Homo sapiens: one gene and its partner. The protein of the gene in region 2 purifies or fractionates together with the protein of the main gene of each other region. This does not show direct contact. Each region holds a gene or a part of one and is shown on either strand. Other genes may lie near its edges.

Region 1 (7,174 bases), on a different chromosome or scaffold from region 2:
CACATATTCTTCTCACCAGCTCCTCAGATACGCTCTGGTTCTATCAAGACGTACTAGGCTGAGCATGGTGGCTCACACCTGTAATCCTAGCACTTTGGGAGGCTCAGCAGGGCAGATTGCTCGAGCCCAGGAGTTCAAGGCCAGTCTGGGCAACATAGGGAAACCCTGTCTCTACAAAAAACACAAAAATTAGCTGGGCATGGTGGCACACACCTGTGATCCCAGCTACTTGGGAGGCTGAGGTGGGAGGATCACCTAAGCCCAAGGAGGTTGAGGCTACAGTGAGCTGTGATCATGCCACTGCGACAGAATGAGACCCTGTCTCAAAAAAAAAAAAAAAAAAAAAAAAAGACAAGCTGCCTTCCTAGTACACATTTTACCTCTTTTCTTCCTCCTCCTCAGTCATCCCTGCATCCCCTATGGAGCAGTTTTTATGTCAGGCATTATGTAAGTACTTTACAACTACACCAACAGGAAATCCACTGCAGAAAACCCCCACTTAGAGTGATTTAGGCATTTATGCAAGGAGAACTTTGTAGAAAAAGTCCAGGGCGTGTATGCAAGCTCATATGCCATCAGCTCCCCAGGCTTGTTCATCCCTAACATGGTAGACTCCAAACTCATGTCTGTGCCTCCTGCTCCCATGATGGCTGCTGTGTCTCCAACACTGTATCCCCTTCCCAGGTAGAAGACAAGGAAGGAGCGAAGAGTTTTCTCCTAGCAAGATAAATCCTCCACAGGGACTTAAGTATATGTGGTCAGTTATGTCACATGGCCCCTTGTAACTGAAATGGGACATGTGTTTTACTTCTCCAGCCTCTATGGTAATAAAAACCAGGAAGAAGGGGGTTGTGAATGGCTTCCGGTTAGCTCATCACCAATGCCTGCCATACATTTCATCTTGTTTCAGTCTCATTTTACCTCATGTAATTCAAGCAATGTTATGATTTAAAGGTTTCTGTTACGTGCATTTCACCAGTGAGAAAATCAAGTCTCAAAAAAATAATACCTACTTTTTACAACCCAGGTCTGCCATCACCTCCTCCTGGCAGAATTCTTTGTATGCCCAACCCTAGGCTGAGTTAGTTATGTGCCCTCCTCTGTGCACCATAGCACCCTAGGCGTGCATCCTTGTTGAAATCTCCAGCTGTCCTAGAGTGGCCTGTGAGCCCCTGCAGTGGGCTGTGAGCCCCACAGGATAAGGCTCTGTAGCCCCCAGGCCTGGGGAGATAACAGGCCTGGAGCTGTACCTATGAGTGTTTGCTGAGTGACAAGCAAGGTGGTGGCCCTGCTCCATGTGGATGTGCCCAGACCCTGGAGCTCTAAAGTATCACATTAGGGAACAGAGACAAATTATAAGGTCCCAGAAGACCCGAGCCACCATGGGAAACGTTGGTGCATGGCTCAGCCAGAGTTCAGAGCACCCCCTGCAGGCTGCGGGTGTCTCTCAGTGACCACAGTGTCCTGAGGCCCAGTGACTTCCTGGGTGGAAACTGAGGCCTGGAGTGTTCCTCCCAGGGCAGTGAGAAAGAGAGAAATAGAAAATCCTTTGCAATGTGGTTTGTGTTACCGCAGCTTCAGCCATGGAAGGGGCTCCTTGAATTAAACAGGAAGCAGAAAATATCAGATTTAGATCCCACATTCCATGCATTGTATACAATTACGCGCTGGAGCCATAGAGGGGCACGTGGGACCCACAGAGGCAGAAAATGGGATTGCTGTTGGGAATGGGGTCGTTCTTTCATGGGAAACCAGTTGCATTCTTGACAGGTGGGCCGAGTCTTCCTGAGGTGCACACTTCACAACCCCAGGGGCACAGGTGAGGCCCTCTCATTTGCTTACAAGGCATTGGTGACAGACATGCTACCAGCTCCCACAATGATGGAGAGTCCCCTTCTCTGCAGCCCCCCAACACCGCTGCATATCTCTGGATTGTAGACCATCCTTGGTGGGCTCACCCCAACTCTCAGGCTCAACAGCCTCCTTTTTACCCATGACTCCTATGTCAGTCTCCAGCCCAGGTCGGCTTCCTGAGGCCCAGGGCCATAAACCCAATCGCATCAATAGGTCCAGCCCTTCAAACACTGCCTGTCTGAAACAGAACCCATCATCCTACCAAAAATATGCTCCTTCTCCAGGTGCCCTGCCACAGAGAATGATACCAATGTCCAGCCACTCACAAGAGCCAAACCATAGTGGTATCTTATCTCTTCCCGCCCACACCCATTGGATTCCCAAGTCTTGACCAACTCCTTCTCCTAAGGCCCTCTTACCCGTCCCCTCTTCTCCACCTGGGTGGCCATCACCCTAGTTCATGGGACCATTGTCTCTTGTCTGGATTGTTCTGCAGTCCAGCTCATCTTCATACCTTCAACATGCTCCAAAACCCTGCCCACGCCCTAGCTGGCCCAGCCACTCCTATGTCCCTGACCCTCTGATGGCGCTGTGTTGGCCTCAGGATCAGGCAAAGCCCTGGCCTTGGTGCACTAGGCTGTCCACACCCTGGCTCCTGCTGGCCTCTTCCCCCTGTTCCCTGGTGTTCCTATCCTGTCGCTAGGGCTTTGCACGTGACATTCCTTCTAATCTATTCTATCCATATTTCTTCAGGTTTTCCCTTGGACTTCAGCTCCTTTAGAAAGCCTTTCCAGACCCCCACCCACTCCCCATGTAGGAGGGCAAAGAAGTCCACTGAAGGCATCTAAAGTGTCTTATTCACTGTGTTTCTGTCTGTTGGATAAATGTGAGTGCAATGGTGACTGCTCGACTGCCTGGCACTACACTCAGACTCCTGGAATGCTGAAGCCTATACTGCTTTCTGTCCAGACCCTGAACTCCCTTTCTCTAAAGTAGGGCATGCCAATTTAAACAAAACACGGAGGACCATTTGCAGCCATGAACACGGCCCTGCAGACGGACAGGCCGATGAGCAGCAGAGCAGACAGGGGTTCCCGCCATCATCCCAGCTCTTCACTGCAGCCTTCAAGGGTCTCCCTCAGAACTTTCATTCATTGTCATACTTCATTCATGATTGCTCATCTTGCCTATAAACAAATCTGAGACAAATAATAAGGCATATCAATGTCCGTATTTATTCAAGAGATACATTGGGGAAAGTCATTTTTCAAAATCTTTTACTGTAGGATTTCTTCACTAAAATCTGTAAAAACTGGTAGATATTGTTGGTGATGCTGGTGGCGGTGGTTGATAGGCTCAGGAAACATGGCTGACATCGCCCTGCCGTGAATTCTGGTATAGTTAAGCCCAGCTTCTCTTTCTTTTTGTCACTGGGGCTCTGGGTGGAGGGAGTAACAGAACAGGGGCAGCAGTTTGCACCTTCTGCTGGCCCTGTTTGCAGACTCAGCTTTTCTTTCCCTGGGCTACGTTGGCAGGTGATACGATCTCTCTGTTCCTCACCCCATGGAGAGGTGAATCTAAAATGAGTGGGTCTGTTAGGGTCTGCATGTCTGTACGTTCCCCTTCTGAGGGGAACTGGCTCCTGGACCCCGTTGCCCTGCTCCAGCTGGGGACCCAAGTGCAGCCATCCCAGGCAGGCCCGGCCCCGGGAGGCCTCCACCAGGGCTCTGCCAAGCAGCAGAGGCTGCCTCTCTAAAGATCCCCTGTCGGGAGAGTGCCTGCCATTTATGGAGCGGGCAGGCAGTAGGAACCAGATAGGCGAGCTAGCTGGAGGCAGCAAGCTCAAGGGGACTGGGCTGCTGCGTGGCGTTCACTGTGCAGCTTGAAGAAGACCCCACGAAGCCTGGACAGAGCCCCAGCTTGGTAAATATTTGTTGACCGATCGGTTGAATGAAATGGTCTTGGGGCAGAGGGGGAGTGGTTTTGTAATGGGGACTGGCGGCGGAAACAGCAGAGTCCCGTCTCTCTAACGGCTAAACTTTAGCGCAAAACAGACACACCGATTAAGGTTCACCGTGTGCCAGGGCCAGGCTGGGCTTCTTCTAGGTGGTTGCGGCGGGCGCGGCTCAGCCTGGGTGCTCCGGAAGCTCCGAGCAGCGCAGGCCGACGGCGACCGTGCGGGACCCGCCCAGCCGCGCTTCCGCCCCGCCTCTGGCCACAGGCGCGAACTGCGCGGCCGCTGCCACCAGGGGGCAGGCCAGGGCAGCGGGAGGCAGGGCGGGGACGCGGTGACGCGGGCACTGCCGGGTCCCGTGACTGCGCGCCCCGCCCGGAGTCCCCGCCGCCGTCATGCAGTCCCCGGCGGTGCTCGTCACCTCCAGGTGAGCCAGACCCCCGCGCCCCACACCGCACAGCTCGCAGTCCGGGGCGCCCGGGCGGAGAGGCGGGGGGAGGCCGCCGCCTCCTAGGCCAGGGACCTGGTGCAGGTCTCCCCAGCGCCCTCGGTGGCTTATCCGGGCTGGGCCCCTGCACCGCCCTGCAGGAGAGGTGGCGACCCCGATTTACAGATGAGGAAACCGAGGCCCTCTGGAGGGTAGAGAACTAGCCAAGGACAGCGGGAGCCCTGGGACTGACTGGTTCAGTGCAGGCGGGCGCAGTGGGGACTCTGCTCTCCTTTCCTACCGCCTTGGGTTCTTCTCTTTTGAGCCCGAAAATCTAGTTCCCCATCCTTTCAGAGCTCCCTGAGTCCCAGGCCCGGTGCTGGGCACTGGGGACAGAGGCGAATCAGACAAGCTCGCCCTGCAGGGGGCTGCAGCGGAGAGGGGGTGATGCCAGCAGCGGGTAGTAAGCTCAGGTTGCCATGGGAACACAGTACAGGGCAGGAACCCGGTTTCTGGGAGGATGAGTTTGATGAGAGACCAGGGAGAGGTCGTTGCTGCTTGCGAGGCAGCTCAGGAGAGCGCAAGTTACAGCAAAAGCCTTGGAGGGGTCCAGGCGGAGGATGCAGAATGGGTCGGCCCTGATCGAGACCTGGAGGACCCAGCCCAAGGTGGATCCTGGCAAGGCTGGGAGGCACGTGCTTTTACTTCTTTCCGCCTTTAAAACGCTGTAAAGTGATTTACTTCAAATATTTTCATACACTTCACCCTTGCTCTCCCTACACAAAGTCTTAGGCTAAGATGCCAATTTATGACATAAATGAACGTGTTACCCAGCCAACTGTTGATCTTCCAGTTGTAATCAGGAATTCCCCGTGACTTCAGGTCTAGAAAGGTATGATTCCTTTTGTAAACCCTGATGTCGGAGGCTGCTTGGTCTTTCATGATCAAGTGTGGTTACAGTTGTATCTTCATGGGCAGAAGAGGTTTCCCTACTGCCACTTACGTCACCTCCTCTCACCAAGCCTCAGTTTCCTTTTCTGTGAATTGGAGGTTTCAGATTGGCAGGCATGAGCAACGTCAGTAGTATATGCCCCTCAGCCATGTGCAGATGGATGGGGTGTGACTTTGGTGCTGGGTGCTTGGGATGGGGTGGGTGGCTTCCCTCCCTGCCCCGCTGCACAGCCTGGACGTGGCTTGTTAACAGATGTGGGGGCGCTGGCGGTGGTAAGGCCACATGAGTCAGGCTCATTTCTTGCTGAGGGCACCAGCACACCCAAGGATCTTGCCTGCAGGGTGAGTCCAAACGCCTTAGCCCAGCAGCAAGGCCGGCCCTTCCCAGTCGCACCCCAGCTCCTCTTTCCAGCCCGATCTCCTCCCACATGTCATTGCCACATGCACTCAAGCTTGAATTCAGCCAGAAGGTGTTTATCGAGAGCCTTCTCTGTACCGGGTACTGGCCCTAGTTCTAGGAGACAAACAAGTCCCTCTCGTAGAGCTTTAATGAGGGCACAGGCCCAGTGGGCAAATCTACGACATGTCAGGGATGATACATGCTATGAAGGAAAACAAAACAGTGGGGGCAACAGAGTGGTAGGAGGCATGCATGCTGTTTTCTATGGTGTGGTAAAGAGGCATCTTTCTGATGGAGTGGCGCCTGGACAGATCCCGGACAAGCTCCATGAGGGAGAGAGCCATGAAAAAGAAATCTTGGAAAAGTGTGTACTGGGAGGACAGGACAGCAGGAGCCAGGGTCCCGAGGCTGGTATGCTGGAGTGGAGTGAGCCCAGGGAGAGTGTTAGGTGATGCGGTGAAGAGGCAAGCTTGGGAGTGAAGGATGATCAGGAAAGGCCGAGAAGGCTGTGGAGGGGCCATCAGATTTAATTTCAAGTGCAATAGGGCCCAACTTCTGGTTTATAGAGATCCTTTGGCTGCTATGCTGAGCATGGGCAGTGGCCGAGCTGAGCATTCAGGACAGGCTTGTAGGTTTCCATGTAGAGCCGGTGGTGGCTTGGCCCGGGGTGATGGCGGCCGTGAGGGTGAGAAATGTTTGGGTTCTCGATATATTTTGAAGATTGAGCTTTCAGGTTTGCTGATGCTTGGATATGGGGTGTGAGAACAAGAAGAGAAGTTAAGACTAACGGCAAGTCTCTCAGCCTAAGCTGCTGGAAGAATGAGGCTGCCCTTTAGCAGGCTTGGGGAGAGGTAGAAGCAGCATTTGTGTAGACAGGTGAGTTTTGAGAAGCTCGTTGACAGCCCAGTGGGGATGTCAGGCAGCTGCAGCTGGAAGGAGGCTGGCTGTGAGGGGAGAGTGAGCTAAAGATGGGAGTTGGGGAGCCATTGGCTCGGAAATGGTATTTAAAGCCTGGAGCCTGGATGAGATCACCTGGGGAGGGGTACAGTGAGAGGAAGAAGGAGGGTGCTCTGGATGCTATCAAGGGGAACCATCCAAAGCAGTTCCTCTCCTCCTGTTTGAGCAAGAGTGGCCAGGGTGGGCAGAGAAGAACCAAGAGTGAGGGGGTGCTCCAGCCACCAGTGAAGGCAGAGCTTGAAGGAGGGGAGTGGCTGACTGTGCCCACTGCTGCTGACAAGTCAGACCAGAGGAGAAATGAGGATTCACCTTTGGATTTAACCACATGGAGGTCGCAGATGACCTGGGCGTGGGCAGTTTGTTGCATGATGAGGACCAAAGTCTGGCTGGAAAGGGTTCAAGATCAAACAGGAGGAGAGGAACCCATGAATATGGGGCCCTCTGTTGAGGAGTTCTGCTGGAAAGGGCAGGAGGGAAACGGAGCAAGGGGAATGTCGGGTCAAAGCACAGCTTTTGTTACATGAGTGGTCAGAGCATGGTTGCATGCTAATAAGCGTGGGCCAGTAAGGAAGGAAAATCGATGGTGCGAAAAAGAGGGGTGAGCTGCAGCAGCTATGTCCTTCAGTAGGTG
Region 2 (7,838 bases):
AGACTGGGAGCTGGATGGATGATGACTCCCACCACCAGCCTAGACAGAGGCCAATGAAGAGGAACACGCTAGGGGGTTCAGCAGCCCCGAACTGCTAATGTTCACTCACCTGGGTGAGAGCTGTGACCCTGTTCCCCATGTCTGGGAGAATGGGAGGCTCATCGCCCACTTGAAAGTCAAAGTAGACGGTCTTGTGAGAGAAGGTGGAAAACTCATTACTGAAGCAAAACTGATAAACGCCCTTGACTTCAGCCCGGTACGTGAAGCTGTCGTACTGCTTCTTCGTTTCTCTGTAGATGGTGTTCCCCTGGGGGTCCTCTACATAGCAGTCAACATCGTAGTGGCCTCCAGTGATGACCTGACAACCATAAAAAAATTGCTGTTATCAAAGGAGCAACCACCACTTACCAAATGCCAACCAGACACTGTGATCAGACTCTACAAACATTTCTGTCACTTCATCTTCAAAACTTTCTAAGGCAGGTGCTACGCCACTTCTCATTTTACTAAGGCTGAGCAAGGTTAAATAAATTGGCTGTGGTCACACTGCTTGAAAGTGAAAGGGCTAAGATTTGAATCTATGCCTGCCTGACTCCCAAGTTTGCTCTGCAGGGTTTCAATGAGCCTAATCCTTTCCATTTTACAGAAGAAGAAACTGAGGTTCCAAGGTTAAGTAAATTCCCTAAGGTTACACAAGAGAAAGTGGTGAGATGAGATCTGCCTTGAGAGCTTTTGGTTCCAGTGCCTAAACATTTACCTATTGCACTATTCTGAAGCATGAATGAACATACCCCAGGATAACTGCTCTTCCTGAGATGGTGCTGATAAAGCTTCCCGAAATCAAGAGCAAGATGAGGAGGGATGTCCAAGAAACTATTCCAATGCAACTAGATGCCACCGATTCTTTATCTTTGTTCAATACTTAACACAAGACACACAGCAAATCACTGATTTAGGGCACTGCCACTCATTAGCCATGTGACCCTAGACAAGTTACTTTATTCTCTGAGGATATGTCTTTATCCATGAAGTGAGGAGTCAATAAGTTATCACACCTAAAGTGTTTAGCACGGTGTCCAACATAAATTTAGCAAGGGCCCCAAAAGTGCCAGCCAATTACTGGACAATCGTCAGACTGCAAACTAACCCCCTGGGGTTGCAGTGGAGATGTGGGATCTGATTTGGGGGCCACCCTAGAGCATGCATGCTGCACCTCCTGCTTCTCCGTTCCAATAACAGACAGGTGTTCCCCCTCCCCCCACCAGCAAGGGTCATTCTTGGCTTGCTGAATGGGTCAAGTAGCTATTAACAATATATTATTAATGACTGAATGCAAGGAGAAGAAAAATATTGATCGAAGTATTCATGGAATTTCTGAGTGTCAGCGGTGGAAGAGTCTTTGGGAATCATTTAGTTCAAACTCTCCTTGTAACATAAGAAAAATAAGACCCACATAAAGCAAAATCTCACAGGTAGGCAATGGCTATAACCAAGATCCATCAAAGGACACGGTCAATGGCCTCCATCTGCTTCCAAATTTAAATGGCCTCTTTGTCCGGACAAAAGTTACTAGTCCTGCTCAGCAAGCTTTGCAAAAAGCAGTGAGTATCCTGTTGCTAAGTGTGTTTAAACCCAGGCTGGACACACTTTGACAAGGGATTTCCGCCCTGGCAGTGACCAGATGACATCTGAGGTCCCTGCAACCACAGAATTATCATTCTTTTTGTCATTGCACCTAGGTTGCCCATGTTAACCCAGTCACAATTTGCATGTTGTCCACAAAGACCTGAAAGTGGACAAATCAGTGACTGAGACTACCACATAGAAGTTGTCTCCAAGCGCAAGCTTCCTTCAGTGCCTCTAACCACAGAGGAACTGGTCAAATAGCTTGCCCCCATTCCTGCTGCCCGTGGCCCCTCATTTCTGAAGTGCCTATCAGCATGCGTCCACAAGCAGATAGCTGTCTGAGTATGATGCCCACTTGGCCCCCAACCCTAGACCTGCTCACTAAATATCGGGGCAGACTACTCACTCAAGACCTGCTCCTGTCACCTGTGGGCCACGGGATCTCTCAAAGGAGACAGGAATACAGGAACTGAGCTTTTCTAAGCCATATGGCAAGAGCCAAGTCTTGCAGCCACACCGCTCCTTGTAAACACCGCCAGGCCTCAATGGCTGCACTGATCCCTCCTTTCCAAAGTGCCCATTCTCACTTCTGCTGCCCTCACCTCACTCCAACTTTAAACGCTGGAGAGGGGAGGAATAAACTAAAACTATGAGCCCACTTCCTCTTGCTGCCATTTTTCAGTACTCGAAGGCACAAGGTGGTCTAAGAGACTGGGGTTAGAGAGCCTGTGTCCAGCCGATCAGAACTGCCGTTGGTTAGTGTCTCGGGGGCCTGCGGATATCTCTTTGGCCAGCTCCCCAGGCTGCGGGATCCGCCCTGGCGTCCCCATCCCGGGCTCGCACCTGCGGCGCTGACTACCTCCTCGCTGGCCAGGCTCGTCTCGGGTGGGCCCTGATGACCCAAACCTTCCTCCTCACGGGGAAGTCAACTGGTCTCCGGGGACTCCCACCCCATGCAGCCTCCCTGTAGCCTGTGGCTAATTCGAGCGCCTCCAGTCAGGGGCTAGCCAGTGTCCAGGTGAGACCTGGGAGTGGAGGGAGAAGGGAGCGCTGCCGGGCGCCCGGCCTCACCTGGTAATCCAGGGAGAACTTCACGCCCTGCTCCACCTCCTCGTGGAAGCACTGCTTGGCGTTGTCCGGCAGCTCGAAGGTGAGCTCGGCCCCGCAGGGCTGCTCGGCCCGGCGCAGGAGCAGCAGCAGAAGCAGCACGGAGGCGGAGCGCGGGACAGTGCTGCCCATGATGCTCTCGGTCCCGTCTCGAGGGCCGCGGCTCGGGCGCTGCGCCCCCGGCGGGCTGGGGCGACGACTACCGACCGGGTCCTAGGAGGATGTAAGGGGATAGACGTGGCACCAGCGGAGCTCTGCGCTTCCGGGAGGGCCGGCGGCTCAGTGCGCAGCCGCGCGCTCAAAGTGGGCCCGGGCACCTTCCGCCCGCTGCGCGTGCGCGCTGGCCGCGCTGCGCCAGGGGACACGCCCCCCCCACCCCCCCGCAACGCCTCTCCCGGCTCGGAGGGTGGGTCTCCGCGGAGGGGAGGTGGGGCTCCACCTAGCGCGCCCCTACCCAGAAGAGGGAGAAGCCCTCCCCGCTGTTCTGCGCGCTCCCGGACCCGCAGGGCTGAGCATCCCCCCAGGTCGACCCAGGTCCACCCTCCAGCTGCTGCAGCACGAAGCACGTGGGATTTTACTCCCTCTATAAGGCTCCGCTTTTGACAGGCTCTGTAACTTCAGTCTCACACTTCCCTCGAGAACCAGTCTCCTTGTCTTGAAATGGGTGTGCCCAAACCTAACATCCACAGTAGTTAGGGAGCTAGGTGAAAGATAAGGGAACGCTGGGAACCCGATTAACACTCCTTTCTTCATTCCCATACCCTTCCCAAGGTGAAAGAGTGTGCGAAGGGGGTGGGGAGTGGGGAGAGTAAGTAAAGACCCATCATTACACCTGCTCTGGGAAAAACACGAGCGTGCTCACACACAAACGATCTCATGAAAATCCAAGTAAAGTCTCGCAGCGACTTCAGGTATATTTTGGCTGTCAGGCTCGTTGAAAATTCTTTTTGCACAAAACTGTCATTTTTGCACTTTGACTTCTTAAAAGCTCTGAAAGCAGATAAATTGGTTTACTGTCTTACCCATGACCACTGACTTAAGATTCTTTTGTATAATCGTAACTATAGGTATAGTTTTATATTCACTGTGATCCAATAAACAAAGAGAAAAGACGTAGATTGTGATGTCGATACTCAATAAATAACTTATTCAGGAGAGCATTACTAGACGTGGTATATCTTGACTTCAGGAAAGAATGTTACTGCCCATATAGATTTCCGCTGGCCACATTCACTATGGATGAACACGCTAATGTGTGAAAGCAATCTGTAGGCTTGGAAATAACATGCATGCATAACATAGTTAATAATATTGACTGGCTCAGTGACAGGCATGGAAGAGGTGTTTAGTAGTGTCCCTTAAGCTTCCTTCCCTGGCACGGTCCTATTTCACGTTTTTTTTTTTTTTAGGAACTGATAGAAAACATGGAAGTAATAATCATCTGATCTAGATGAACTAAGTGGAGAAATAAATGACAGATATAAAACCACAATTGGCCGGGAGTGGTGGCTCACGCCTGTAATCCCAGCACTTTGGGAGGCTGAGGCGGGTGGATCACGAGGTCAAGAGATCGAGATCATCCTGGCCAATGTGGTGAAACCCCTTCTCGACTAAAAATACAAAAATTAGCTGGGGGTGGTGGTGCGTGCCTGTAGTCCCAGCTACTCGGGAGGCTGAGGCAGGGAGGCAGGGGTATTGCTTGAACCTGGGAGGTGGAGTTTGCAACCTGGCGACAGAGCAAGACTGCGTCTCAAAAAAACAAAACAAACAAACAAAAAAAAAACACGATTGCCCTGGCACAGGTGGAGTGCTCTGCTAAGACTAACAAAAAGAAATTTCGGGCTGGGCACCATAGCTCATGCCTGTATCCCAGTATTTGGGGAGGCTGAGGCAGGAGGATTGTTTGAAGCCAGGAGTTCGAATCTAGCCTGGGCAACATAGTGAAACCTCGTTTCTACAAAAACAAACAAACAAAAATTAACCAGGCATGGTGGTGTGGGTCTGTAGTCCCAGCTACTTGGGATGCTGAGGTGGGAGGATTGCTTGACACCAGGTGTCTGAGGCTACAGTGAACTGTGATTGCACTACTGCACTCCAGCATGGATGACAAAGGGAGACCCCATCTCTAAAAATCAAAATAAATTCCTCCGGATTAAATGTTAAGTCTTACATTTAAGTTCCAAGAAAACACCTGCATAAGTTCAGGGGAGGAGCTGACATTGAAGAAGCTCTAGTCAGAGCATGCAGGCTGTTGGCTGGGACACCTCGGTTCTCCTCCAAGCATCCTCTTACATCTAATAGGCTAGATTACTTCCTTATATGGCAGGTTCAGGGCAGCATCCCAAGAGGAACTAGGCAGAAGGAGCAAGGCCCCTGAGACCTAAGCTTCAGACCTTTTCCAGTATGACTTTCTCCACATTCTGTTGACCAAAGCAAGTTCAAAGGCCAGCCCAGATTCAAGGAGGTGGAAAAATGGAATCTACCTCTGGATTTGAGGAGTTGCAAAGTCACATTGCAAAGGAGGGTCATACTGGGATGGAAGGAATTATGGCTGTTAAGCCATCTTCTATAGTATCCAGACTCACTCAGCTTGTCAATGGCTAAGCCAGAAAGTGAACCCAGATCTGCTTAATTCTGAAGACTACCAGCTTCCCACTAAACACACTGCCTCTACCCATACCTCAGGGAACACTTGTCCTACATGTTCCATAGGGCAAACCTTGGACCAAAGCATGAATCTGACACTGAGGCACATTTCAGCTCACACAATAAATGATTTTCTGGAACCAGAGATTTCCAAAAATAGAATGGACAAGGATAGTACATTTTTCATACCCGAAAATATTCGAACAGATGCAGGTGAACAACCAACCACTTAGCAACAACAGAGATGATTCATGAGCCTGGGTGACAGATAATAGTGGTGTATGACCTCTACGGTTCCTTCCAACCTTGATATTGCATGATATATGGCAAATATTGCGTGATATATGGTACTAAAGGTAGGATAACTTGAAAGAAAAACCAAAAATGTTTTCTATCCACTTTAGTCCTGGGGTGACTTCTGTAAAGTCCTTTTAAAACAGTAAATAAAAGAAACACACACATAAAAATAGTAAATAATAAATATTAAAACAGTAAATAAAAATGAGGATCTTAACAGATGCAGGAAAAAAAGCATGTGACAAATTCAACATCCATTCATGATAAAAACTCTTAGCAAAACAGAAATAATAGACAACTTCCTTAATGTCATAAAATGTAACAAATTTAGAGCAGACATCATGATTAATGATAAACATGTCTTTTCCTTCAAATTTGGGAATAAGACATAAATGCCTGCTATCACAACTGCTATTTAACATTGTCCCAGAAATTCTAGCAGGAAAGGTTAGGCAAGAAAAAGAAATAAAAGGACAAGAATTGGATATATAAACATCCAAATAGTGCTTATATCTAAGGGGAAGGAAAATGCAGAAGTCCAGAAGGGGCACCCAAGAGAGACTCATGAATGTTCACATTCTGACTTTCATTAACTGAACACTTAGGTTTTACTTCTCTAAGTATGTACAGATGCTCCTCGGCTTACAATGGGGTTATGTCTGAATAAACCTATCATGAATTGAAAACATCGTAAGTTACGTGTGTTATGATGAGATGGGCAGTATAAGGTGGACCCATCTGTGCCCTAAAGCAGAACTTTATCATTGCTTCATGCAACAGGAGCACTCCCTAGCATGCTATTAGTATGTTGAAACAAAATCAAAGTTTATCCATGCCTCATGCAGGTAATTGATGGTGAAGGAAAAAAGCAACACAATCGCTGTGTGGATTGACTAAAGCAAATGGAAACTTTGCAAACCGCTTAACGTTGCCATGGAGCTATAACCAATACCAGCTTTTCCCTGAACAAACCAGTCAGAGACAGGTGACACACACTGCCCTCCTGAGACTCACAAACTTCCCCAGAACAACTGTTTCTGTGGCTGTCAAGCATTTAACTATCCTTCCTATGGGTAAATCCCAAACTAGGTGAGAAACCAGCCTCCCTCTCATCACAGAGCAAAAGAGGGGCAGATAGTCCCTCTCCCTCTGCTCCCGGGTCCCAAGGTATGTGGGCATGGGATCCAGGCTCTGCCAACTGGGTGCCCTTGTATCTGACTCGGGGGGGCGGGTGTCTAGAGAGGTAGAAGCAGAGAGTATAATGGTGGTTACCAGGGGCTAGGGGGTGGGGGGCTTGGGGAAATGGCCAATGATTACAAAATTTCAGTTAGATAAGAGGAATAAATTCAAGAGATCTATTGTACAACATGGCATCTATGGTTAATAATGTAGTCTATACTTGAAAATCACTGAGAGTACCTTTTAAGTGTTCTTGCCACAAAAAAAATGATATATGCAGTAATATATATGTTAATTACCTCAATGTAGCCTTTCTACAATGTATGCATATTTTAAAACATTATGTTGTATACTTCAAATATACATAATTTTTATGTGAATTAAACAAACAAATTTAAATTTGAAAAAGAAGAAGAATGCTTCAATCTTTAAGCTTTGGACAGGAAAATATTGTGACTAAATGACTACAGAATGATCTTTAAAAATTGAAAAGCTTTTTGCAATTCACACATTATGTTGGATTCATGGAAATGACTCATATTCTCCCTTGAGTGTGAGGTAAAGAAACATTAATATCTTAAATATAGGAAGAGAATAATCCATGTGCCCACTCACCATGCATGAATTATATTTTCCTAGTGCTAAAAATTCAAACTTCTTCTTACCCCATTGGGTCTTTGTTTCTATATAAATAAGTATAATTTATTCTGCTTTTAAAAAGAGAAAAAGAAAAAAACATCATATAACTTATTATCTTTGCTGTAACATGGTGGAATGGAAAGATAATGAAATTCAAGACCCAAAACCCTGGCATTAATGTTTTGACATTCTGTCCTTGTCTGGGAGTCCACGTCTGAAACTTTAAAATAGAGGTTGAGGTTGGGGATTGGGTGAGTTGATGCCAAAGGTTTTCTTCTTCCAATTATCAAGACTTTTAATAATTTCAAACAGTGAGCTTGGGCTTCTTTTCTTCAATTTAAAAG

Evidence for each region. The genes of interacting proteins can lie anywhere in the genome.
Region 1: the proteins of TMED3 (region 2) and HS1BP3 purify together in Homo sapiens (affinity purification with mass spectrometry; 3 studies listed by BioGRID and IntAct, with this or other methods). This does not show direct contact.

What each region holds. Positions count from the first base shown.
Region 1 is NC_000002.12:20,648,093-20,655,266, reverse strand, and holds the start of HS1BP3 (HCLS1-binding protein 3), read left to right. Parts: upstream 1-4,168; 5' UTR 4,169-4,203; coding exon 4,204-4,235; intron 4,236-7,174. UniProt on the Homo sapiens protein: May be a modulator of IL-2 signaling.
Region 2 is NC_000015.10:79,306,277-79,314,114, reverse strand, and holds the start of TMED3 (transmembrane emp24 domain-containing protein 3 isoform a precursor), read right to left. Parts: upstream 3,004-7,838; 5' UTR 2,866-3,003; coding exon 2,698-2,865; intron 359-2,697; coding exon 110-358; intron 1-109.